7 linked regions of the Homo sapiens genome follow. The protein of the gene in region 5 purifies or fractionates together with the protein of the main gene of each other region. This does not show direct contact. Each region holds a gene or a part of one and is shown on either strand. Other genes may lie near its edges.

What was found.
Region 1: the proteins of FBLN5 (region 5) and ZNF430 purify together in Homo sapiens (affinity purification with mass spectrometry; one large-scale study listed by BioGRID and IntAct). This does not show direct contact.
Region 2: the proteins of FBLN5 (region 5) and POLR1E purify together in Homo sapiens (affinity purification with mass spectrometry; one large-scale study listed by BioGRID and IntAct). This does not show direct contact.
Region 3: the proteins of FBLN5 (region 5) and ZNF460 purify together in Homo sapiens (affinity purification with mass spectrometry; one large-scale study listed by BioGRID and IntAct). This does not show direct contact.
Region 4: the proteins of FBLN5 (region 5) and R3HDM1 purify together in Homo sapiens (affinity purification with mass spectrometry; one large-scale study listed by BioGRID and IntAct). This does not show direct contact.
Region 6: the proteins of FBLN5 (region 5) and ZNF77 purify together in Homo sapiens (affinity purification with mass spectrometry; one large-scale study listed by BioGRID and IntAct). This does not show direct contact.
Region 7: the proteins of FBLN5 (region 5) and PRR14L purify together in Homo sapiens (affinity purification with mass spectrometry; one large-scale study listed by BioGRID and IntAct). This does not show direct contact.

What each region holds. Positions count from the first base shown.
Region 1 is NC_000019.10:21,055,157-21,058,656, reverse strand, and holds part of ZNF430 (zinc finger protein 430), read right to left. Parts: intron 2,027-3,500; coding exon 636-2,026; 3' UTR 1-635. UniProt on the Homo sapiens protein: May be involved in transcriptional regulation.
Region 2 is NC_000009.12:37,488,948-37,492,447, reverse strand, and holds part of POLR1E (DNA-directed RNA polymerase I subunit RPA49), read right to left. Parts: intron 3,134-3,500; coding exon 3,048-3,133; intron 167-3,047; coding exon of another isoform or gene 73-166; intron 1-72. UniProt on the Homo sapiens protein: Component of RNA polymerase I (Pol I), a DNA-dependent RNA polymerase which synthesizes ribosomal RNA precursors using the four ribonucleoside triphosphates as substrates.
Region 3 is NC_000019.10:57,279,207-57,283,284, forward strand, and holds the start of ZNF460 (zinc finger protein 460), read left to right. Parts: upstream 1-1,278; 5' UTR 1,279-1,600; coding exon 1,601-1,630; intron 1,631-4,078. UniProt on the Homo sapiens protein: May be involved in transcriptional regulation.
Region 4 is NC_000002.12:135,537,984-135,541,483, reverse strand, and holds part of R3HDM1 (R3H domain-containing protein 1), read right to left. Parts: intron 1-3,500.
Region 5 is NC_000014.9:91,934,195-91,937,694, forward strand, and holds part of FBLN5 (fibulin-5 isoform 1 precursor), read right to left. Parts: intron 3,008-3,500; coding exon 2,753-3,007; intron 1-2,752. UniProt on the Homo sapiens protein: Essential for elastic fiber formation, is involved in the assembly of continuous elastin (ELN) polymer and promotes the interaction of microfibrils and ELN. Stabilizes and organizes elastic fibers in the skin, lung and vasculature.
Region 6 is NC_000019.10:2,934,972-2,938,471, forward strand, and holds part of ZNF77 (zinc finger protein 77), read right to left. Parts: intron 1,734-3,500; coding exon 1,553-1,733; intron 1-1,552. UniProt on the Homo sapiens protein: May be involved in transcriptional regulation.
Region 7 is NC_000022.11:31,743,633-31,747,132, forward strand, and holds part of PRR14L (protein PRR14L), read right to left. Parts: intron 1-3,500.

The sequences.
Region 1 (3,500 bases), on a different chromosome or scaffold from region 5:
ACTTGTAGAAGTTTTCTTCAGTATGAACTATCTTACCTATAATGAAGTGTGACAACCATTTAAAGGCCTTGTCACATTCTTTACATTTCTAGGATTTCTCACCAGTATGATTTTTTATGTTTAAAAGTTTTAGGTGTTGTCAAAAGCACTGTCACATCTTTCAAGTTTGTAGAGTTTCTTTTCAGTATGAATTATCTTTTTTTTTTTTTTCTGAGATGGAGTGCCACTCTTGTTGCCCAGGCTGGAGTGCAATGGCGCGATCTCAGCTCACTTCAACCTCTGCCTCCCGGGTTCAAGCAATTCTCCTGCCTCAGCCTCCCGAGTAGCTGGGATTACAGGCATGCACCACTACGCATGGCTAATTTTGTATTTTTAGTAGAGACAGGATTTCACCATGTTGGTCAGGCTGGTCTCGAACTCCCAACCTCATGTAATTCACCCGTCTCAGCCTCCCAAAGTGCTGGGATTACAGGTGTGAGCCACCGCACCCAGCCAGAATTATCTTATGTCTGGTAAGAATTGAGGACTTGTTGAAGGCTTTGCCATATTCTTCACACTCATAGGGTTCCTCTTCAGTATGAATGTTCTTATGTTTAGTAAGAATTCAGGACGGGTTAGAGGCTTTGCCACAATCTTCACATTTGTAGGGTTTCTCTCCAGTATGAATTACTTTGTTCAATAAGGTTTGAGGACTGGTTGAAAGCTTTGCCGTATTCTTCACAGTTGTAGGGTTTCTCTCCAGTATGAATTACCTTATGTTTAGTAAGAGTTGAAGACTGGCTAAAGGCTTTATCACATTCTAGGTATTTGTAAGATGTATCTCCAATATGAGTTATCTTATGTTTAGTAAGGTTTGAGAATTGGTTAAAAGCTTTGCCACATTCTTCACATTTGTAGGGTTTCTCTCCAGAATGAATTACCTTATGTGCAGTAAGTTTTGGGGACCGGTTAAAGGCTTTGCCACATTCTTCACATTTGTAGGGTTTCTCTCCAGTATGAATTATCTTATGTGCAGTAAGGTTTGAGGACTCATTAAAAGCTTTGCCACATTGTTCACATTTGTAGGGTTTCTCTCCAGTATGAATTCTTTTATGTTTAGTAAGGGTCGAGGACCAATTAAAGCCTTTGCCACATTCTTCACATTTGTAGAATTTCTCTCCAGTATGAATTATCTTATGTTTAGTAAGGTATGAGAATCGGTAAAAAGCTTTGCCACATTCTTCACATTTGTAAGGTTTCTCTCCAGCATGAATTATCTTATGTGTAGTAAGGGTTGAGGATTGGTTAAAAGCTTTGCCACATTCTTCACATTTGTAGGGTTTCTCTCCAGTATGAATAATCTTATGTGTAGTAAGGTGTGAGGACCGGTTAAAAGCTCTGCCACATTCTTCACATCTGTAGGGTTTCTCTCCAGTATGAATTCTTTTATGTGTAGTAAGGTGTGAGGACCGGTTAAAGGTTTTGCCACATTCTTCACATCTGTAGGGTTTCTCTCCAGTATGAATTATCTTATGTGTAGTAAGGGTTGAGGACTGCTTAAAAGCTTTGCCACATTGTTCACATTTGTAGGGTTTCTCTCCAGTATGAATTCTTCTGTGTCTAGTAAGGGTTGAGAACCAGTTAAAGACTTTACCACATTCTTCACATTGGTAAGAATTTTCCCTAATATGAATTCTTTTATGTTGAGTTAGGTGTAAAAGCATGCAAAACGATTTGTCACATTTTTTACATTTGAAAGGCTTCTTTCCAGTATGTCTTATCTTTTGTATATTTGGATTTGAAAATTTATAAAAGACATTCACATATTTATCATATTGAAATATTTCACTCTGGGTAGTTGTCAAACACTGGTTTAGTTCATCATAACATTCTTTGTGCAGATTACACTCATCCACACTTTTACAGCCTGTTCTTAACTGTAAATCTTCATGTCCACATTTTCCATATCTTCTCAATATGACTTCTTGGAAAGAATCTTTTATGCCCTGCTCTGGCCAAAGGTCTTGGGCAAAATGAGAATATGTAACTGAAAGAAATAAAAATAACAAATTACTCCATTTACTAGACTCAGATGAATATGCTTTACAAATCTAACCCATATAATTATACAAACTACATAAACAAGATGGCATAGCAAAATAATAAAGGCCCTAATTTTTTTTTTTTTTTAGACAGAGTCTCATTCTGTAGCCCAGGATGGAGTGCAATGGCGTGATCTCTGCTCACTGCCACCTCCGCCACCCAGGCTCAAGCTATTCTCCTGCCCCAGCCTCCAAAGTAGCTGGGATTACAGGCACGCACCACCACGCACAGCTAATTTTTGTATTTTTAGTAGAGATGGGGTTTCGCCATGTTGGCCAGTCTGGTCTCGAACTCCTGACCTCAGATGATGCGTCCACTTCAGCCTCCCAAAGTGCTGGGATTACCGCACTTTGGCACACCAGCCACCGCGCCTGGCCCAAAGGCCCTAATTTTTTACAGACATGTAAATGTAACAAAAACATCCAACAAAAATACATCTGAGGAAAATTTATAAATAAGTTAAGTGTGTGAAGTGCCCCAGCTGAGCACAACATAGAGAGTGACACAGAAGAAAAAGAAAAGTCTGTTAAATTTACCCAACACAGCTCTTCCTGCTCCCCACTGCCAACTTTTGGTTTCTTTTTTAAAAGACAATTAAAATACTGCCACATACATCTTTATTACTTGCTTCTAGGGACCTATCTATACACTGGTTTCTGTCTCCTATGACATCTAGTGCTGAAAGAAATGGTGGTATACTTTGGAATGACAGTTTAAGTCTGCTGAGACCAAAGCTAAATGTTACAGCAGCAGAGAGACTGCAGTGCCACACACAGAAAACAGGTGTAGCAAGTTATTACTATTAAGAAGAAACAAAAAAAGGCCAGTTGTGGTGGTTCATGCCTGTAATTCCAGTACTTTGGGAGGCCAAGGCTGGCGGATCACTTGAGGTCACAAGTTTGAGACCAGCCTGGCCAACATGGTGAAACTCCATCTCTACTAAAAAAACAAAAGAAAAGTTAGCCAGGTGTGATAGCGTACACCTGTATTCCCAGCTACTTGGGAGGCTGAGGCAGGAGAATCACTTGAACCCAGGTGGCGGAGGGTGCAGTGAGCCGAGATTGCGCCACTGCACTCCAGTCTGGGAGACAGAGCAAGACCCCGTCTGACAAAAAAACAAAAAACAAACAAAAAAAAAAACTAAAAAAAGAAGAAACACAAACTCTTTTAATTAAAAAATAAACACAAAATTGTAGACAAGACACATTCTAGCAACATGTTTGAGAGACTCCCAGTATCTCTAATCAAGACAATTGTCCAGACTATGCCAGGACAAAGCTACATTATAAGGATTGTGACAGGTAGCTTTTTTAAATGTACAAATTTCAATCAAAGATTACAATGTATACAAAATAAGGCAATATGGTTTTATCAAAAATATAAAAGTTTCAGAGAGAAACCATAAAAAATGTATATAT
Region 2 (3,500 bases), on a different chromosome or scaffold from region 5:
AAGCGGTCATCCAGCCCAACCTCTTCATTTTAGAAATTAAAAAACAGAAGGCCCACAGATGAAATTACTTGCCCCAGGTCAGTTCACCAGGTAGTGGCAGAGACAGGATTAGAAAACAAGTCCTTGGCTCTTTCCAGAAAATAATTTTGCTTTCTTGGTGAAAGACCTAAAAGCAGGCATAAACATGAGGTATGTGGTACTTACCGATGCTCTCCAATCATCTACAAAGTACTCAAATAAGGGCAGTATAACTTAGTACACAACAGTACAAGCTCTGGAGTGGCCTTGCCTGTTATCTCAGCCATCACCCCTGATAAGGTCATCTAACCTCTGTGCCAGTTTCATCACTGGTAAAAAAAGAACAACAGTACTTACTCCAGAAGGTTGGTATATGCATGGAAAGTGCTTAGAACAGTGACTAGCATATAGTAAGGACTTAAATGTTATCTCTGTGTGTGTGCTACCTAGAATAAACTCATATTTACAAACTTCTTACATATAACAACAAAAATATGTTTAATCAACACGTTAAATTACAATTTTCCTTGCCTCCCTGGATTTTACAAGAACAGTTGGAAGATGATTTAAATATAGTTATATATGTTTGCAAAGCAGGGGGACACCTAGGAAATTCACAGATGGGTGTCCGGACTCAAGAGACCTTTAAAATTACGTGTAAAATTTGGCTAGGCACGGTGGCTCACACCTGTAATACTAGCACTTTGAGAGACCAAGGTGGGTGAATCACTTGAGGCCACGAGTTTGAGACCAGCCTGGCCAACATGGTGAAACCCCATCTCTACTAAAAATACAAAAATTAGCCGAGTGTGGTAGCGCACACCTATAACCCCAGCTACTCAAGAGGCTGAGGCAGGAAAATCGCTAGAACCCGGGAGGCAGAGTCTTCTGTGAGCCCAGATTGCACCACTACACTCCAGCCTGGGTGACAAAGCGAGACTGGGTCTCAAAAAAAAAAAAAAATTATGTATAAAATCCCATATTAAAAAAAATCCCATATATATGTATTTGTGTATCATATATGTTTCTCAGAAGTAGGTCCAGGTCCTTAGCAGATTCTCAAAAGGGATGGAAGCACTGCTTTGAGAGAATAAAACTGGAACTAATGCCTCTGAGGTATCAGGCAGATTCACAATGCTCCCAATGTTTCTTTCTTGTCTATCGCCCTATCCTGCCATGGTTCCCAGTATTTAAGGGCATCACTAAGGATTCAAGTTCTGAGATTTAAGGAACAGAAGCCCCTTGAGTGTGACCCTTTTATTTATTATTTTGGAAGATCTCACTCTAGCCCTGAGCATTCTAAGATGACAAAGCAGAGAAACAATGTAAATTCTTCCACTGGATTAGGGAAAAAAAATAGATCTTCCTCAAATTAGTGTAGAGACTTGTCCTCAACGTGAAAGTTACTATACAACTTAATAAGCAATTTCCTTTGTCTACCAGAAATTCTAAAACCTCTTTACCCCAACTATAACAGTTAAGAATTAAGAAAGAACCCTTTCGGCCAGAACTGCCATCTTGCAGTAATTCATCAAAATGACAAACACAAAGGGAAAGAGGAGAGGCACCCAATATATGTTCTCTAGACCTTTTAGAAAACATGGAGTTGTTCCTTTGGCCACATATATGTGAATCTATAAGAAAGGTGATATCGTAGACATCAAGGGAATGGGTACTGTTCAAAAAGGAATGCCCCTCAAGTGTTACCATGGCTAAACTGGAAGCGTCTACAGTTTAGCATGCTGCTGGCATTGTTGTAAACAAACAAGGGCAAGATTCTTGCCAAGAGAATTAGTGTGCGTATTGAGCACATTAAGCACTCTAAGAGCCGAGAAAGCTTCATGAAACGGGTGAAGAAAGATGATTAGAAAAAGACAGAAGCAAAAGAGAAAGGTACCTGGGTTCAACTGAAGCGCCAGCCTGCTCCACCCAGAGAAGCACACTTGGTGAGAACCAATGGGAAGCAGCCTGAGCTGCTGGAACCTATTCCCTATGAATTCATGGCGTGACAGGTGTTTAAAAAATGAAAGACCTCTGGACTGTAAAAATGTTTCTCTTCATTGAGTAGAAGTGTGGTGTTCTCTCCCCCAAAGAAATATTTAAGGCAAATTTTAATTATGTCCTAGTTCATTATGTAATGTCTTTACTCTTCAAATTTAATGTATTTCTTGCTGAAAGACGTGAGGTAGCTTATTGTGCAACAAACTCCTCGATTGTTTAGAAAATGGCCAGGTATTACGTATGAAATATTTGTACTGGTTTGAAGATAGTCCCTTGAAATGATCAAGGAAGAAATAAAGTAATTTACAAAAATAAAAAATAAAAATAAAAAGAATGAAGGAAGTTCTTTTATGGAAAAGATTTTATATCAGACATGTCCTCTAATATTCTGCTCTGATCATTGCTCAGATTGCTTTTATGAACCTCTGACCTCAAGTCTCTAAACACTATGGGGACAGGATCTGTGTCTGTCTTGCTTACTGCCACATCCACAGCCCCAGCTTGGTGCCTGGTACATTAGGTTATCAATAAGTGTGTGCTGAATAAAAAACTCTAGGCCGGGCGCAGTGGCTAGCGCCTGTAATCCTAGCACTTTGGGAGGCCGAGGCAGGTGGATCACCTGAGGTCAAGAGTTTGAGACCAGCCTGGCCAACATGGTAAAACGCTGTCTCTATTAAAAATACAAAAATTAGCCGGGTGTGGTGATGTGCACCTGTAATCCCAGCTACTCGGGAGGCTGAGGTAGGAGAATCACTTGAACCCGGGAGGTGGAAGTTGCAGCGAGCCAATATCACACCACTGCACTCTAGCCTGGGTGACAGAGTGGGACTGCATCTCAAAAAAAACAAAAAACAAAAAACAGTGTGTATATAAAAAACCATTTTCTCAACACAGACAAAGCAGAAAAAACAGAATAAATAAATTAAAATAACTATAAAATGTGTTTTATAAATCTAAAACTCAAGCCAACTCATCCAGCAAACCCAAACTATGCATTATTTCTGTCAGCTTTCATGACTGGGACCTACCTGAAAATAGTGGCTGCATGTTGAACAATTCAGCATCATATACTTCCATTTGGCCAGAGGTCTTGTTCAAAATTCCCACAAAGTGCCTGAATAAAGAAGAAATAATACAAATAACAATGGATTATTCAAAAGCATTATTTGTACAGCTTTCTTTTTTTTTTTTTTGAGACAGAGTCTTGCTGTCACCCAGGCTGGAGTGGAGTGGCATGATCTCGGCTCACTGCAACCTCCACCTCCCGGGTTCAAGCAATTCTCCTGTCTCAGCCTGCTGAGTAGCTGGGATTACAGGCGCACGCCACCATCCCCGGCTAATTTTTGCATTTTTAATAAAGATGGGTTTCACCATGTTGTCCAGGCTGGTCTCGAACTCCTGACCTCAGGTGATCTGACCCTATCAGCCTCCCAAAGTGCTGGGATTACAGGCGTGAGCCACTGCACCTGGCCCTGTTTCCT
Region 3 (4,078 bases), on a different chromosome or scaffold from region 5:
ATGATGTCTTTATCAATTTTCAAAAATTACTATTGCCAGTGATGAATAACAGTGTTCCTTGCACACTAATTTAGCCAAAAATATTTCTCCAAAAGTACCGCATCGTGTAGGAAATTGACTCCATCTCCATTCCTTGACTATTTTCAATCTCAAAATTAAATCTCTTGGAGAGTACTTTCTGCACACCTTTCTATTTCCTTAACCATATATATCGTCAAACCATTGAAAGCTGGACTTTATTCTCTCACTTTCATAGTCATGAAAAGAAAAAAAAAAAGTTACTGATGGGGACTCCTAAGACTTCGCATAATATAATCTTTGCATAGTCTAGGATTGTTAAAATTCCTAACAAGACTTTATAAACTCTCCTGTCTGCAACCAGTTAATGCTGGGTTGGGCCAGGGTTCCCCTCTTTCCCGTCACTTATCCATCTACGCTCATTCTTTTCATAGCCTCACCCAATATCATGACTTGAAGTAACAGTTTACAGTAATAACTCCCAAATTTATATATCCACGCTCGAACCCTCTGCCAATGTTGAATCATAGGTTGAGTATATGGCACTACGCTTTGTGGTCTTACTGACGTTTCAAACTGATCATGCTTGAAATGGGAGTACTGGGCTTCCCGGCAAGCCTGCTCCACTAGCAGCCTCCCCACCTCAGGGTACGGGAAGTCCACACGTGGCGAACGCGAAGCCTATTACATCACCCGGAAGTCCCTGCATCCTACGAAGGCTGGGCCCGGCCAAAGGAGGCCCAATAGAGGGCGGTCTGTCCTTTCCCAGCAGGCTGGGCACACTGTCAGGCGTCCTCCTTTGGGTGGCTATTTTAACTGCTCATTTATCCTTTTCTTCTATGAAAAGATCCAGAAAAGAGGCAAAGCAAGCGAGAAGTCGCGGGCCCAGCCCACAGCAGGGTAAGCACCTTTGTTCGGGGTCTGAATCGGGGCGAATATCCCCGCCTCCTGACCTCGATTTTCCTGAGCTAGAAGGGACCTTTCGACCCTCCGACTTGTGCCTATACTAAGGCGGTGGCCCTAAGACGACGCGGGGGTTCTGGTGCGCACTTACGTGCAGTCGGATGCGCTGGGTGAGTTCCCACACCCGGTAGATGTAAGGGAAAAACTGCATTACCCAGAAGGCACTGCCCCTTGCGTCGGCCGCGGACTCTGGGCCATTGACGACCCAGGACAGGAGAGTTTTCTGCGGGCCAGGGCGGCGGAGGCGGGACTTCCGCTTCTTCGTGTGACGTCATCTCCGTGGGCCGGTTTGGCCCTGAAACAGTGTGGGGCCTAGAGCGCTGGGTGGGCGCGTTCTGCGGCCTGAGCAGGGACGGGTAGTGAAGCGGTTACGCCCCTTCTTCGCGTCTTGGCGGGAGCCTGACGCCCCGCTTCTCCCCTAACGAGGTGTCCCACCGGCGCCCGCCGAGGCCTAGGCCTCCGCAGCCGCCCTCCGTCTCCTCAGCCCCGACGCTGCGCCTTGGGCCTTGTGCGCATTTTTTTCGGGGGAAAACTGAGGCTCGGAGTGCGAAAGTCAGCCGAGGTCGCCCCGCCCAGGACAGAGAAGGGCTGTGGTCGGCTGATCCGCGGCATTCCCGGGATGGCGGCGGCGTGGATGGCTCCGGCGCAGGTGAGTGGACGAGGTTTCGGCCTTGCTGCTGCTGTGCTATTTCTAGAGGCCTCGTGGGCAGGCTGGAAGCCAAGACAGCCACAGGATTTTTCTTTGTCGCCATCGTTTATTTAAGAGAAATGGCCGTGGCTTGTCATTTCCTTTATCCGCAGTCCTGCAACAGTGTTGGCCTCTGATAGGTGTTCAGTCCGTGGTTGAAGGAGTGATGCTTCCTTCTAGGGATCTCATCACACTTCCCCTAAATCCAACCTTCTCTGTTGCCTGCCAGCCCGTACCCCATCCACCTGGCCAACCACCCCTGACCTTGTCTGTTTGCATTTTTCCCTGGTCCTTTGCTCTTCAGAGCCACCAACCTGACCGTGCAGTCCTCTTCCATTTTCCAGGCTTTCTCCTTGCACTTCCTTTTACTTCGAACACTGCCCCTGTAACTTTGCAGGGCCTCCCTTTCACATCCTTTTGGCATCTGTCCAGGTGTCACCTATTTGGAGGTGCCTTTTTTGGCAATTCCGGCTAAAGTGGCACCTTACACCCTTGCCCAGAGTCTGGTATTTTTGTGTAGATAATCTGATGGTATTAAAGAAGCTTGTGGATTTGAGTTTGTCAAGGATGTAATGGGAACAAAGAAAAATAATTGCAAAGAATGATATTAACTGTCATTGAGTCCTTGCTGTGGGCTGATCGGTGAGTATTATTTAACCCTCAGTTCGTTTAACCCTGAAATTTTTTTTTTTTTTTTTTTTTTTTTTTGAGACGGAGTCTTGTTCTGTCGCCCAGGCTGGAGTGCAGTGGCGTGACCTCGGCTCACTGCAACCTCCGCCTTTTGGGTTCAAGCGATTCTCCTGCCTCAGCCTCCTGAGTAGCTGGGACTACAGGTGTGCGCCACCACGCCTGGCTAATTTTTGTATTTTTAGTAGAGACGGGGTTTTACCGTGTTGGCCACGCTGGTCTTGAACTCCTGACCTCAGGTGATCCACCCATCTGGGTCTCCCAAAGTGCTGGGATTACTCTTTAGAATTAGGTTCTGTTGTCATCATTGTTTTACACAAGAGCAATTTGAGGGTCACATACGTCCAATTACCTGCCTTACATCACTGTAGCTCTTAAGTTTCTTAAGTCAGAAACTAACAACTGGTGTGTCTAACATCATAGCCTGTGTTTTTACCCTCTTCTTTACCCGCAGTGGTTAGGGAGGCCTGGGGGTGAGACCTAAAGTAACCTTTGCAAGATGAGGCCTCCTTCTAGCCAGTGATCTTGGGCATGAGGAGTCATGGCCTTTCATACTGGTGGAACTGTGTAGACTTAAAAAATGGTATATTGGTTGTTTAAGGAGTTCTCAGGGGACCTGTGTGGCTTCCACGGTGGTTTTATATGTGGTTCCCCTTACTCCCTTACCTGCTGACATATTCTGAGAGGGCACGTTTGTATGGTTATGTTGCTGAATGTACCCTCCTACTCAGCCAGGATAGATGTAATCTCCAGATGGGCCCATATTGTCTTGGCTACAACCTGCTGTGCCCTCTATGACTCTTGTTGCTTGCTCATGGAATCTTCTGGCCTCAGGGATGCCTGCTAGTAGGACTTAGGTAGAAAAGGAAGCGATGGCTCATTGTGAATTCTCCCTGGAAGCAGGTCCAGGCCCTAACACCTGATCAGGTGTCACCACGTCAGGTGATTCTTTGGTGAGGTGGATGATGATGACTACACTTCTCTGCCCTTGTCCATGGGAGTGGCTGAAATGTATATGTGGATTTGAAATGCTTCATTCTCATTAACTGCATTAACTTTGCTAATAGAGAAATGTCAGGTTACATAATCAGACCAGAGGGCCCTGGGCTTAAATCCTGCCTCTGTTGATAAGACCTGTGACTTTGGGCTGGGCTTGGTGGCTCACACCTGTAAACCCTGCACTTTGGGAGGCTGAGGTAGGTGGACTGCTTGAGCCCAGGAGTTCAAGACCAGCCTGGGCAACATGGGAAAACCCTGTCTCTACAAAAAGTACAAAAAATTAGACCGGCATGGCATCATGTGCCTGTAGTCCCAGCTGTGCAGGAGGCTGAGGTGGGAGGATCACTAGATCACAGGAGGTCAGGGTTGCAGTGAGCCGACATTGTGCCACTGCATTCCAGCCTGGGTGACAGAGTGAGACCATCTAAAAAAAAAAAAAAGAGAGAGACATGAACACATGAGACTTTGGGTAGACTGGTAGAGCGGAGGGTAGGACTGAGGCCCAGGTCTCAGGTCCCTGAGTGTGACATAGAGATGATGATGGTAAATTCAGATGCTGTGGCCTTTGCCTCAGTGTTTGTTTGTTTTTTTTTTTTTTTACAAACAGTTTTTCTTTCTTTCTTTGTTTTGATGGAGTCTAGCTCTGTTGCCAGGCTGGAGTTCAGTGGTGCGATCTCGGCTCACTGCAACCATCGCCTCCGACGTTCAAGCGATTCTCCTGCT
Region 4 (3,500 bases), on a different chromosome or scaffold from region 5:
GTAATCCCAGCACTTTGGGAGGCAGAGGCAGGCTGATCACGAGGTCAGGAGATCAAGACCATCCTGGCTAACAAGGTGAAACCTCGTCTCTACTAAAAATAAAAAAAAATTAGCCGGGCATGGTGGCGGGCGCCTGTAGTCCCAGCTACTCAGGAGGCTGAGGCAGGAGAATGATGTGAACCCAGGAGGCGGGAGGCGGAGCTTGCAGTGAGCCGAGATTGCGCTACTGCACTCCAGCCTGGGTGACAGAGCAAGACTCTGTCTCCAAAAAAAAAAGAAGCTAATGCAGATACTTAACTTTAAGTTGAAGACAGCGCTCATTTAACCTTCTGAAAATCCTAGGGCCATTAAGAACTATGCTAAAAGTACTCTGCCTGTGCTCTATAAATGAAACAAAGCCTGGATGACAGCACATCTGTTTACAACAGATATGCTATTTACGAATACTTAAAACCCTCTGTTGACACCTACTGCTCAGAAAAAAAAGACTCCTTTTAAAAAACTTACTGTTCGTTGATAATTTACCTTGTCACCCAAGAGCTCTGATGGAGATGTAAAAAGAATGAATGTTCCTTTGACTGCTAACACATGTATTTTTCAGCCCATGTATCAAGGATTAATTTCTATTTTTAAGTCTCATATTTATGAAATACACTTTGTAAGGCTACATGGCCGCCAAAGATAGTAATTCCTCTGATGCAACTGGGTAAAGTAAGCTGAAAACCTTCTGGAAAGGATTCATCACGCTAGATGCCATTAACAACATTTGTGGGCATGGTGGCTCATGCCTATAATCCCAACACTCTGGGAGGCTGAGGCAGAAGGACTGCTTGAGGCCAGGAGTTTGAGACCAGCCTGGGCTACGAGCAAGACCCTGTCCCTACAAAAATAAATAAATAAATAAATAAAAATAGACGGATGTGGTGGCATGCACCAGCACTGAGGTGGGAGAACTGCTTGAGCCCCAAAGTTCAAGGTTACAATAAGCTATGACAGCAGCACTACACTCCAACCTGGGCAACAGAGCAACACCTCCATGTCTTAAAAGAATATTTGTGATTCATGGGAGGAGGTCAAAATATCAACTTTTAAAGATTTTTATTTTTTGACCACCTACGCATCTGTGAAGTTACAAAATATCAACAAGAGTGTGGAAGAAATCGATTTCAACCTTTATGGATGACTTGGAGGGGTTCAAGACTACCCTGGATAAAGTAACTACAGATGTGGTGGAAACAGTAAGAGAACTAGATTCAGAAATGGGGCCTGAAGATGTGCTTGAATTGCTGCTCATGATATCATTATTTGTTCATGATTACGGATGAGCAAAGAATGTGGTTTCTTGAGATGGACTCTACTCCTGGTAAGTCTATTTCTGTTAGCATTGTTGAAATAGCAACAAAGGATTTAGAATATTACACAAACTTAGTTGTAAATTAGTAGGAAAATTGGAGAGGATTCACTACAATTTTGAAAGAAGTTCTACTGGGGGTAAAATGCTTTCAAATAGCAGCACATGCTATCGAGAAATCTTCCATGAAAGGAAGTGTCCATCAACGTGGACATTGTTTTCATTGTTGTCTTATTTTCAGATATTGCCACAGCCACTCCAACCTTCAGCAACCACCATCTTGATGGGTCAGCAGCCACCAACACTGAAGCAAGACTCTCCACCAGCAAAAAGATTACAACCTGCTGAAGGCTCAGATGATTAAAATTTTTTAGCAATATTTAAAAATTAAGATATGTGCATTTTTTAGACATAATGCTCTTCACACTTTAAATAGACTACAGAATTGTATAAAACTCTTTTTTTTTTCAAATGATAACATCAGTAGTAAACCTAACTTTTAAATGCACCAGGGTACCCAAAAATGTATATGACTCGCTTTTTCATGGTTGTCTGGAACTGAACTCGCAGTATCTCCTAGGTGTGCCTGCAATTCTTTTGGGATCCATTCTAGTTGCTGTATCAATACAATCACGCACTGCATAATGACATTTCAGTCAACAATGGACTGCATAAATGATAGTGGTCCCATAAGACTATGTTGGTGAAAAATTCCTAGCACCTAAGGATTATCACAGCCTTCATAACACAACACATTACTCACGTGTTTATGGTGATGCTGGTGTAAACCTACTGCACTGCTATATGCATATGACTATATGAAAGTATAGCACATACATATGTACAGCACGTAATACTTGATAATGGTAATAAATGACTATGATACTGATTTATGCATTTACTACACTTCTTATCATTATTTTAGAGTGTATTCCTTCTACTTATTTAAAAAAAAAATCAGAAGTTAACTGTCAAACAGCTCAGGGAGGTCCTTGAAGAGGTATTCCAGAAAAAGACATTAACATCAAGATGACAGAGTCATGTGTGTAATTGTCTCTGAAGACCTTCCGGTGGGACAAGATACAAAGATGGAAGACAATGATACTGATGATACTGACCCTGTGCAGGCCTATGCTAATGCATGTGTTTACATCTTGGTTTTTAACAAAAAATTTTAAAGGAAAAACAACAACAACAACAACAACAACAAAAACTTTTAAGCCAGGCGTGGTGGCTCACGTCTGTAATCCAAGCACATTGGGAGGCTGAGGTGGGTGGATCACCTGAGGTCAGGAGTTCAAGACCAGCCTGGCCAACATGGTGAAACCCCGTCTCTACCAAAAATACAAAAATTAGCCGGGCATGGTGGTGGGCACCTGTAGACCCAGCTACTTGGGAGGCTGAGGCAGAAGAATCGCTTGAATCCAGGAGGCGGAGGTTGCAGTGAGCCAAGATCGTGCCACTGCACTCCAGTCTGGGTGATGGTGACGAGAGCAAAACTCCGTCTCAAAAACAAACTCCAAAACCTTTTAAAATAGAAAAATGCTTATAGGGCAAGGATATAAAGAAAAAATATTTTTGTACAGCTATAATATGTCTATTTTAAGCTGTTACTAAAAAAGGGTCAAAACTTTAAAAATTTTTTAAAATTCATAAAGTAAAAAGTTACTGCAAACAAGTTAATTTTTTAGATAGAAAAATATTTTATAAATTTAGTGGAACCCAAGTATACAGCATTTATAAAGTTTACAATGGTGTACAATTATGTCTGAGGCCTTTGCATTCACTCACTGGCTCACCTACCATAATTTCCAGTGCTGCAAGCCACATTCATGGTAAGTGCCTTAGGTATACCATTTAAAAATATTTTACACCTTATTTTTACCATACCTTGTCTTTATTTACATATACAGATACTTAACCATGGTGTTAGAATTGTCTATAGTATTTAGTATAGTAGCATACTGTATAGGTTTGTAGCCCAGGAGCAACAGGCCATACATATCATATAACTTAGATATCTATAAGGCTATATACCATGTAGTTTTGTGTAAGCACACTCCATGATGTTGGCACAACAAAACTCTCTAATGACACATTTCTCAGAATTTATCCCTAATGTTAAACAAGGTGTGACTGCAGTTTGTTC
Region 5 (3,500 bases):
TCAGAAAACAAAAATAGCAAGAGAAGGACCTTGTTTTTAATCCTGACTTCAGCACTGACTCTGAGCACCCTCGAACAAATCTATACCTCACTGAGCCTGTTTTCTCATTCAAAGCCTGAATGGTTCAAATCATGGCTCGGCCCCTCACTTGCTGTGTGACTTTGAACAGGTTTCTTAGTTTCTCTGCTTCGGTTTCCTCATGGGTACAATAGGAATGATAATAGTTTTACCTTGTAGCTGGTTATGAGGATCAAGCGCATTAATTATTGTAAAGGTCCTAGCACACGAGTTCTATCCAAGTGTTTGATATTATTACCACTGCTGCTGCGGATGTTACTGTTGATCGCTATTCTTATTTTGATGAAGAGGACAAGACACCTTTGGAGATGTTTCCTCCTCTCCTAGAACACTAAAGTTTCAGAAATGTTTCCCAAGTCTCCCTGACTTACCCACTGCTCATGCAATGCCTCCTCCACAGGATCAGAGCTGTGCTCTGGAAAACACCCACATTCTCTGGGCAGTGACACCTCCACACTCACCTCCTTGTCTTTTCTCAATGATCCCCCCATCTGGTTTCCTTCCCTCCCACCTTCCGCCACGGTGCCTTGCTTCCCTTCCACCTGCTCCCAGGCCCACCTCTCTTCCATCCCAGTTCTTGGAAGGAGCGGTAGGTAGAAAGAGCCTCCCTTTCCCATCCCTTCTCTTACTTCCCCCCACCCCCACAATGCCAGCTCTTTACAATACGCAGAGGGACCTCAGCGAGGGCCATTTGAAAGCCCTGTGTAAAACCAGGAAACCATGGGGTGGGGTGAAGGGAAGTTAGAAAGAACTCAGGACTTATGAATGCATAATGCTGAACTTTTTGGAAATGGATGGGCCTGGTGCCAGTCCTCACTAGGGCTCCTAGATTGTATTCTCCTTACAAAAGGGCCATTATGAAAGTTCCGCATCTCCCGTGTGACAGGTTCAGAGCCATAAATGGCATGACGTCAGAGGGACCAGGGGAGGAATAGGTTTCCCAGCCATGTCCTCATTGTCAAGGGCACTGGGACCCTGGAAAGAGGTTTAGGGGAAGGAGGGAGACACTTTGGAGAAAGCCGCAGCAGTTCCCAGCCGTTCTGCAAAGGAGGCCGCTGAGCTTGCCCGAGGCATCAGCTAGACCTGTCTGCACCACGACCACCCAAGGCCCCCTGCCAAAACCGCAGAGTGCCTCGAAAGAATCATTACACCCTCTTCCTCACCTCAAGACACGTAAGGGCTGATCACTTGGCTTATCCAGCCCCCACGTGACATCCTGGAAGAGCAGCACCTCCCACCTCTATCTCTGCATTTTCTTTTGGGATCATTTCTTTTCTACCAGATAGGAGAGGTCATTTCCTATAGTTAGGAGATTGTAGACAGGGGAGAAGTTAGGGGAGCTGGACTGGCATCCTACCTCTGTAATTACCTAACTGGTTGGAGTCCACACTCTCCTTTCTACAAAATGAAGAAGTTGAAGTTAAAGATTGGTAAAAAAAAGTCCCTTCCAGTTACAAAGGTCTTTCCTCCTGATGCTGGTTATAAGGAAGCATGTTACCATCTTCTCCACCAAAGTTGGCTTGACCGGACCCTGCGCTCATTCCCTTTGCACAGTCATCTACGTTTAAGGTAAACATTAACCAGCTCTGTCTTTCTCACTCTTTCTCTCTCCCCACGCCAACACACACAGAGACCACACGCCTTGAGACCAGCGAAAATGCAGAAGTTTGGGTTCAAGCATACCCAGTGTTCCCTCATAGCTCTGAAGACACTTGTCTGCAATTATTGTATTAAAAAGAGAATGCACACTCCTTCATATAAGCATATAGAAGACACCTTAAATTAACCAACACAGCTTCCCTAATAGTGGGTTACAGCTCAACACTCCAGAGCCCTGAAATGGGACAACAAAATCTTGGGACAAACAAAAATGGGAAAAACAAAAAACAAAATGGGACAAACAAAAATCTTGCTAGACCAATGGTCTCTCAAACTTTTGGGGTAGAGGAAAAAAGTAATAAAACTTCAATTCATATATATTTTTTCTTAAGAGACAAGGTGTCACCATGTTGCCCAGGCTGGAACGCAGTGACTATTCACAGGCGCGATCACAGCGCACCTTGGTCACACCCCTTGCCAATTCCTTTGTGCCTGCTTCTTCCCGGAGGTCCATTCTTGCTGTGAGTTCCTATCAGTGAGGCTCCTTTTGGTCACAAGCACATTAGTTCCAACCCAAGTAACCTAATTTTCTTTCCAGAACAGTTGGCCGTGCCCTTCAAGGCTTCTTGTATTGCAGAAGCACATGTTCCAATCAAGGGTGCGGGGGCTGAGGACAGAGCTTTGGCCCTGTCTAGAACTTCCTCTGAGATTTACTTACTGTAATAAGTCTGACCAGATGTATTGGTTATTTGAGAAAATATTACCTTGGTCTTTAAATATATAGATGAGTTATAGATAGATAGATACAGATAGGTAGGTAGATAGATGAAAGTAAAATAAAGAAAAAAATTGGTTTTCTGGAGAACTGTGAACAAAACAGCAAAATAACCTCCCTAGTTGGGCAGGAACCCAGAGATACAGGCTGCTAAGAGTGAAATAAGTATGCAGAGAGTAAGTCATTGTTTCACTGGTGCATTGAATGGCAACTAACAACCCATTTGTGGTGAGCATGCCAGATACAGACGATGTCTTCACCAAAGCACAGCGGAGAGGAACAAAAGGCCGGGCTACTCACCCACACATTGGTTGCTTTCATCCATCTGGTATCCAAAGCGGCATATAAGAGGCCTGGAGATCGTGGGATAGTTTGGAGCTGAGAGTGGTGGGGCAGCTGCTGGGTACGGACCTGAGTAGGGGGTCGAGTAGGGGTTCGAGTAGGGCCCTCGATACACAGGGTTTGTCCGGGGAATGCATAAATACCCGCCATTTTGGTTAACACACATCATGTCTCCTCGGCAGGCCTCGGGGATGGTTCGGCATTCATCAATATCTGAAAGGCACAGAAAGGGCGAGCATTAGTGGCACCCCAACTGCCTTGTGTCCGGTGCATATTTAAGCAGAACTCGGTACCAGGCGTGGAGGAAGCACTCCCAAACACCTAGGGTGGTCCCAACTCATCGCGGTAAGGTACCCCAAATGTTGGCTGAAGTGTATCAAAGTAACCAGTGTCACTCAAACATCAGCCTTTCAAATACCACCATCATGATTTTGACCATATCTACAAAAACCTTGCTATAGTTTGAATGTCCCTCCAAAACTCATATTGAAACTTAATCCCCAGTGTTGCAATATTGAGTGGTGGGGCCTTTAAGAGGTGATTGGATCCTGAGGGCTGTACTCTCATGAATGGATTAATCTACTCATAGATTAATGGGTTAATGGGTTATCTTGGAAATGAAACTGGTGGCTTTCTAAGAAGAGGAAGAGAGACCTCAGCTAGCAGCCCAGGCCCCTCACCGTGTGATGCCTTGCGTACTTCGGAA
Region 6 (3,500 bases), on a different chromosome or scaffold from region 5:
TAATGCTCTAGCTGAAGGCTCAACTGCAGCCATAAATTTCACGGTGTTTCTTTTCTTCTTTTTTTGAGATGGAGTCTCGCTCTGTCACCCAGGCTGGAGTGCAGTGGCGCCATCTCGGCTCACTGCAAGCTCCACCTCCCAGGTTCATGCCATTCTCCTGCCTCAGCCTCCCAAGTGGCTGGGATTACAGGCGCCTGCCACCACGCCTGGCTAATTTTTTTGTATTTTAGTAGAGATGAGGTTTCACCGTGTTAGCCAGGATGGTCTTGATCTCCTGACCTCGTGATCCGCCTGCCTCGGCCTCCCAAAGTGCTGGGATTACAGGTGTGAGCCACCACACCCAGCCTTTTTTTTTTTTTTTTTGAGATGGAGTTTCACTCTTGTTGCCCAGGCTGGAGTGCAATGGCATGATCTCAGCTCACCGCAACCTCCACCTCCCAGGTTCAAGCGATACTCCTGCCTCAGCCTCCCAAGTGGCTGGGATTACAGGCGTGCACCACTACACCTGGCTAATTCTTTTTCGTATTTTTTTTTTTTTCAGTAGAGATGGGGTTTCTCCATGTTGGTCAGGCTGGTCTCGAACTCCCGACCTCAGGTGATCCACCTGCCTCAGCCTCCCAAAGTGCTGGGATTACAGGCGTGAGCCACTGCGCCCAGCCCACGGTGTTTCTTATAGATGAAGTTTCCTGATATTGTTTCCAACTGTTTCAGACACGTGACATTGACATCACATTTATAAAAATACTCTCTTAGGAAAAGTCTCAGCCAGGGACGGTGAATCACACTTGTAATCCCAGCACTTTGGGAGGTTGAGATGGGTGGACTGCTTGAGTCCAGGAGTTTGATACCAGCCTGGGCAACACAGTGAAACTCCGTCTCTACAAAAACACAAAAATTAGCCAGGTGCAGTGGTGTGTGCCTATAGTCCCAGCTACTTGGGAGGATGAGGTGGGAGGATTGCTTGAGCCCAGGAGGCAAAGGTTGCAGTGAGCCAAGATCCGTGCCACTGCACTTCAGCCTGGTTGACAGAGTGAGACCCCCATCTCAAAAATAAATAAATAAATAAAATAAAAATAAAATAAAATAAATAAAAGTAATTATTAAAATATATTTTTAAAAAGAGAAAATAAAGAAAAAGAAAAAAAATGTCTCTGTGGGTCTGAAATTGTGTAGTTGGTTTATACTTTTTTTTTGAGATGGAGCTTTGCTCTTGTTGCCCAGGCTGGAGTGCAATGGTGCGATCTCAGCTCACTGCAACCTCCGCCTCCTGGGTTCAAGCGATTCTCCTTCCTCAGCCTCCTGAGTAGATGGGATTACAGGCATGAGCCACCACGCCCAGCTAATGTTTTGTATTTTTAGTAGAGATGGGGTTTCTCCGTGTTGGCCAAGCTGGTTTCGAACTACTAACCTCAGGTGATCCACCCGCCTCGGCCTCCCAAAGTGCTGGGATTACAGGCGCGAGCCCCTGTGCCCAGCCGATACTTTTCTTTGAATTGCAAGTTAGTTTGATGCTCTGCGGAGAGGCCCATCCCTCCGGTTGAGCGCCACTCACCTCAGATGCCTCTGTGGGATTTGGTGCTGATCTCCAGTGTTATCAAATCTCCAATTTTCTCCAAAAATAGACCAGGAATCACTTCCTGTGAACTTTACAATCTCTTCATCATTGGATATTCCATTCCCAAAAACGTCCCTCTGAGAACTTGATCCACTGGTTCTAACATAAATGTAACAATCTGCAACAATCAATTACACAATTTCTTAGGAGAAATATGTTGGGATAAAGGAAATAGACCACATACGGATTTCTTTTCATATAGTAATCCAAAAATGTACCGTTTATAAGGAAGAATAGACATGCTATCAAAGTGAGACTCTGAGGACCTCATCTACTTGAGAATTTGGCAATAATAAAAAGCAGATGAGCCGGGTGCAGTGGCTCATGCCTGTAATCTCAAAGCACTGCGGGGCCAAGGTAGAAGAATTGCTTGAGCCCAGGAGTTCAAGACAAGCCTGGGCAACATAGGAAAATAAGGAGACCTCATCTCTAAACAACAATAAAAAATTTAAATTAGCCAGGCGTGGTGTTGTGTGCCTATAATCCCAGCTCCTTGGGAGGCCAAGGAGGGAGGATCACTTGAGCCCAGGAGGTCAAAGCTGCAGTGGGCCATGATTGCACCACGGCACTGCAGCCTGTGTGACAGAGTGAGACCCTGTCTCAAAAAAAGAATAGTGCTGGATGCGGTGGCTCACGCCTGTAATCCCTGCACTTTGGGAGGCCGAAGCGGGTGGATCACCTGAGGTCAGGAGTTCGAAACCAGCCTGACCAACATGGTTAAACCCCATCTCCACTAAAAATACAAAAAATCAGCCGGGCATAGTGGCACGTGCCTGTAATCCCAGCTACTCGGGAGGCTGAGGCAGAAGAATCACTTGTACCTGGGAGGTGGGGGTTGCATTGAGCCAAGATCGCACCATTGCACTCCAGCCTGGGCAATGGGCAGTAAGAGTGAAACTGTGTCTCAAAAAAAAAAAAAGAAGAGATAAACGTGGCAACCCATTTACTAAGAAACAGAATAGTTCCAAACAGATGGAGACTGATGTTTAGTAAAATATTATCAGAAAAGCAAAGTTTGCACATGCACAAATGCTCCTCGTATACGAGGAAATCCAGAGGCTTTCCCCTGCGAAGGAGGACAGTGCAGGGGGGTGCAGGAGAAGCCACACAGGGCAGCTGAGAGAGGACACACCTCCTCCTCCTCAGAGAAGGGTTTGTGTTTCTTTTTTTTGTTTTGTTTTGTTTTTTGAGACAGAGTCTCACACTGTCACCAAGACTGGAGTGCAGTGGCACTTTGTTGGCTCACTGCAACCTCCGTGTCCTGGGTTCAAGCAATTCTCCTGCCTCAGCCTCCCGAGTAGCTGGGATTACAGGCACCTGCCACCACGCCCGACTACTTTTTATATTTTTAGTACACATGGGGTTTCACCACGTTGGCCAGGCTGGTCTTGAACTCCTGACCTTAGGTGAACCACCCACCTAGGCCTTCCAAAGTGCTGGGATTACAGGCGTGAGCCACTGCGTGCGGCCAGGGGTTTGTACTTCTAACCCACGATGCCAAACGGAACCTTCTTATCCAGAACCCACTCCTCCCGAGGGCTGCTGCTCTCCTGGTGCTCACAGGCACAGGGCCCTTACAGGAGTCCTTCCTCCACTATGCCCGGCTGCCCTCAGGTGTGAGCACCACCCATTCCTGGAGAATCACATGATGAGGAAGGATTGTGAAGGGCAACAAATGTTCCCCTGAGACAGGCCAACACTTTGACTTCCCAGACCACCGATGATGTCCGAGTGTGAGTTTTAATTGCAGCAAAATTACCATGTCAAACGTGGATTACTCACAGTGTAACTTGGATTTACTTTATCACAGTGTACTTTGATTTTCAAAGTACAGTTACTCTGTGTGGTGAACCACAAAGCTGCTTTTGTTGCCCCAACGTGACAC
Region 7 (3,500 bases), on a different chromosome or scaffold from region 5:
TCTACTAAAAATCCAAAAAATTAGCTGGGCATGTTGGCGAACGCCTGTAATCCCAGCTACTTGGGAGGCTGAGGCAGGAGAATCGCTTGAACCTGGAAGGCGGAGGCTGCAGTGACCTGAGATGGGGCCACTGCACTCCAGACTGGGTGACACAGTGAGACCCTGCCTCGAAAAAAAAAAAAAAGAACCTGACCTTGACCCCAACCTTTCTTTCAATTCCTAACCTACATTTCACTTGCAAGAATGGCACCCCCAAAACTTACCAAGTTTAAAACAGAATTCATTCAATCTATTGAATAACTGAGTCTTTGAGTCTTTCTACACGCAAACAGCTTTGAGAAACAGGTATAAATAAGACGCCCTCAGCAAACTTACATGCTCATTCATTAAAAAAAAAAAAAAAAAGACAGGGTCTTGCTGTGTCGCCCAGGCTGGAGTGTGGTGGTGCGATCATAGCTCACTATAACCTTGAACTCCTTCTGCCTCAGCATGCCTGGTTAATTTTTTTTTTTTTTTTGGGATGGAGTTTCGCTCTTGTTGCCCAGGCTGGAGTGCAACAGTGCGATCTTAGCTCACCACAATCTCCACCTCCCAGGTTCAAGAGATTCTCCCGCCCCAGCCTCCTGAGTAGCTGGGATTACAGGCATTTGCCACCACACCCAGCTAATTTTGTATTTTTTAATAGAGATGGGGTTTCTCTATGTTGGTCAGGCTGATCTCAAACTCCCAACCTCAGGTGATCAGTCCGCCTTGGTCTCCCAAAGTGCTGGGATTACAGGCGTGAGCCACTATGCCCGGCCTACTTTTTTATTTTTGTAGATAATTTTGTATGTCTTGTTATGTTGCCCAGGCTGGTCTCAAACTCCTGGGTTCAAGCAATCCTCCCACCTCAGCCTCCCAAAAGTGCTGGAATTACAAGCGTGAGCCACTGTGACTAGCCACATGCTGATTCTTAATCCTGTTGCTTCTCAGAAAAGGCACCATCAATATTCTAGAGCTTAGATTTGAATCCCCAGCCATAACCATATCTGACTTCCCCTCACCATTCAATCAGCACTTGCAGCCTGTGGACTCAACTCCCTGCAGTGTTTCTAGTAAATCATATTCATTTCCATCCCCACAGTTCTAGCTCAACATTTGTTCCAAATGTTGCTCCACATACGGTCATACACAAATACAGGTTTACTAAACAGATCTTTATCATAAACAGTGAATACTGATAATCACATAAAATGGTTCACCTCTTGATACTCTTGTTTGGACCAAATTCTAAGAATTTCAACCTGTAAAACAACTAGGCACATTGGCTAGAGAACCAAAACAGACACCCCCTCCTTTTTCTCCTGGACTAATTCTGGGTCCTCAAATTTCTGAACAGAATTGCAGATACGTTACCAAGAACAGCTGGAACCCTAAGAGGTGAGGTGATATTAAATGCAAGCCTAGAGTGGCAGGTTAAACATGGCCGGGTGCTTTGGCTCACGCCTGTAATCCCAGCACTTTGGGAGGACAAGGCAGGCGGATCACGAGGTCAGGAGATCGAGACCATCCTGGCTAACACAGTGAAACCCTGTCTCTACTAAAAATACAAAAAATTAGCCGGGTGTGGTGAGGGGCGCCTGTAGTCCCAGCTACTCGGGAGGCTGAGGCAGGAGAATGGCATGAACCTGGGAGGCAGAGTTTGCAGTGAGCGGAGATTGTGCCACTGCACTCCAGCCTGGGCGACAGAGCGAGACTCCGTCTCAAAAAATAAAAAATAAAAAATAAAAATAAACTTATTTTCAGCTCAGTAGCTCACACCATCTATCAAAATATTGGTAATGCCACAAGACTGCAGTGACAGAACCCGATTTTGAGAAGACATTCAAGTTCTTTAAATTCCTGAATGCAATGGAGCAATCTAAAAGGATGATGTAGAAATACATCTCTACAGCCGGGCGTGGTGGCTCATGCCTGTAATACCAGCACTTTGGGAGGCTGAGGCGGGTAGATCACTTGAGGTCAGGAGTTCAAGACCAGCCTGGCCAACATGGTGAAACCCTATCTCTACTAAAAAATGCAAAAATTAGCTGGGCGTGGTGGCAGGAGCCTGTAATCTCAGCTACTTGGGAGGCTAAGGCACGAGAATCGCTTGAACCTGGGAGGCAGAGGTTGCAGCGAGCAGAGATCGCGCCATTGCACTTCAGCCTGGGTGAGAGGGAGACTCAGTTTAAAAAAAAAAAAAAAAAAATATATATATATATATAAGCCAAGTATCACAGTGTTACCTTGGACAATAGGATCACCAATGACTTATCTGTATGTTGAACTTTTTTTTTTGGAGATAGGGTCTCTGTGGCCCAGGCTGGAATGCAGTGGCTTGATCACAGCTCTCTATAACTTCAAACTCTGGACTCAAGCAATCCTCCTGCCTCAGCCTCCTAAGCAGCCAGGACTACAGGCGCGAGGCAGTGAACCCAGCAAATATTTTTATTTCTTGTAGAGACAAGGTCTCACTACATTGCACAGGCTGGTCTTGAGCTCCTGGCCTCAAGTGATCCTCCCACCTCGGCCTCCCAGAGTGAGCTGCTGCACCCAGCCTTGTACTTATTTTTCAAAACAGTGAGTATATATTACATATGTTAAAATGTTGTCTAACCATTATTTCTCAAGATCTAAACACACAGCAATAAAAACAGCTGATAAGTGTATTTTCAGTATTTTTTATCAGTATGTTTTATCAGTATTTTTCCAGCTGTCAGCTCTCTGCCTTAACCACCAATGCTTTTACATTAAAGTGTTAAATGTGAAGTAAAAGGGAAGAGTGAGTAACACATGCTTATAAAATGTAGACAGGGATTTACAGCTTAATCTTTGCTAATGACTTATAATCAACCTATTGGGTGAGGATACCAGATAATTACCTAGTTTGAGGTATAAGCAAAAAATAAACCATAGATTTATGAACGACTTTTGACAGCTGCTACTGGCTTGTCGTCTTTATCACAACACAAATAAGTACTATATTAGAATGTGTAGGGAATGGATTTATTCCCAAAAACTGACTAATACTTACAGGAAGTATGAAAATTATTATTCCAGTAAAAGTAGAAATTCTTTTACGTTGAGGACAATTATTTCATGTTCTTTCTTTGCAAACGCACAAATACTTCTCCCAGCAGTCTTTTTTTTTTTTTTTTTTTGAGACGGAGTCTCACTCTGTTGCTCAGGCTGGAGCGCAGTGGCGCGATCTTGGCTCACTGCAAGCTCTGCCTCCCGGGTTCATGCCATTCTCCTGCCTCAGCCTCCCAAGTAGCTGGGACTACAGGTGCCCGCCACCACGCCTGGCTAATTTTTTTATTTTTTTTATTTTTAGTAGAGACGGGGTTTCACTGAGTTAGCCAGGATGGTCTTGATCTCCTGACCTTGTGATCCGCCCGCCTCGGCCTCCCAAAGTGCTGGGATTACAGGTGTGAGCCACCGCGCCTGACCCTCTCCCAGGAGTCTTTTTTTTTTGAGAC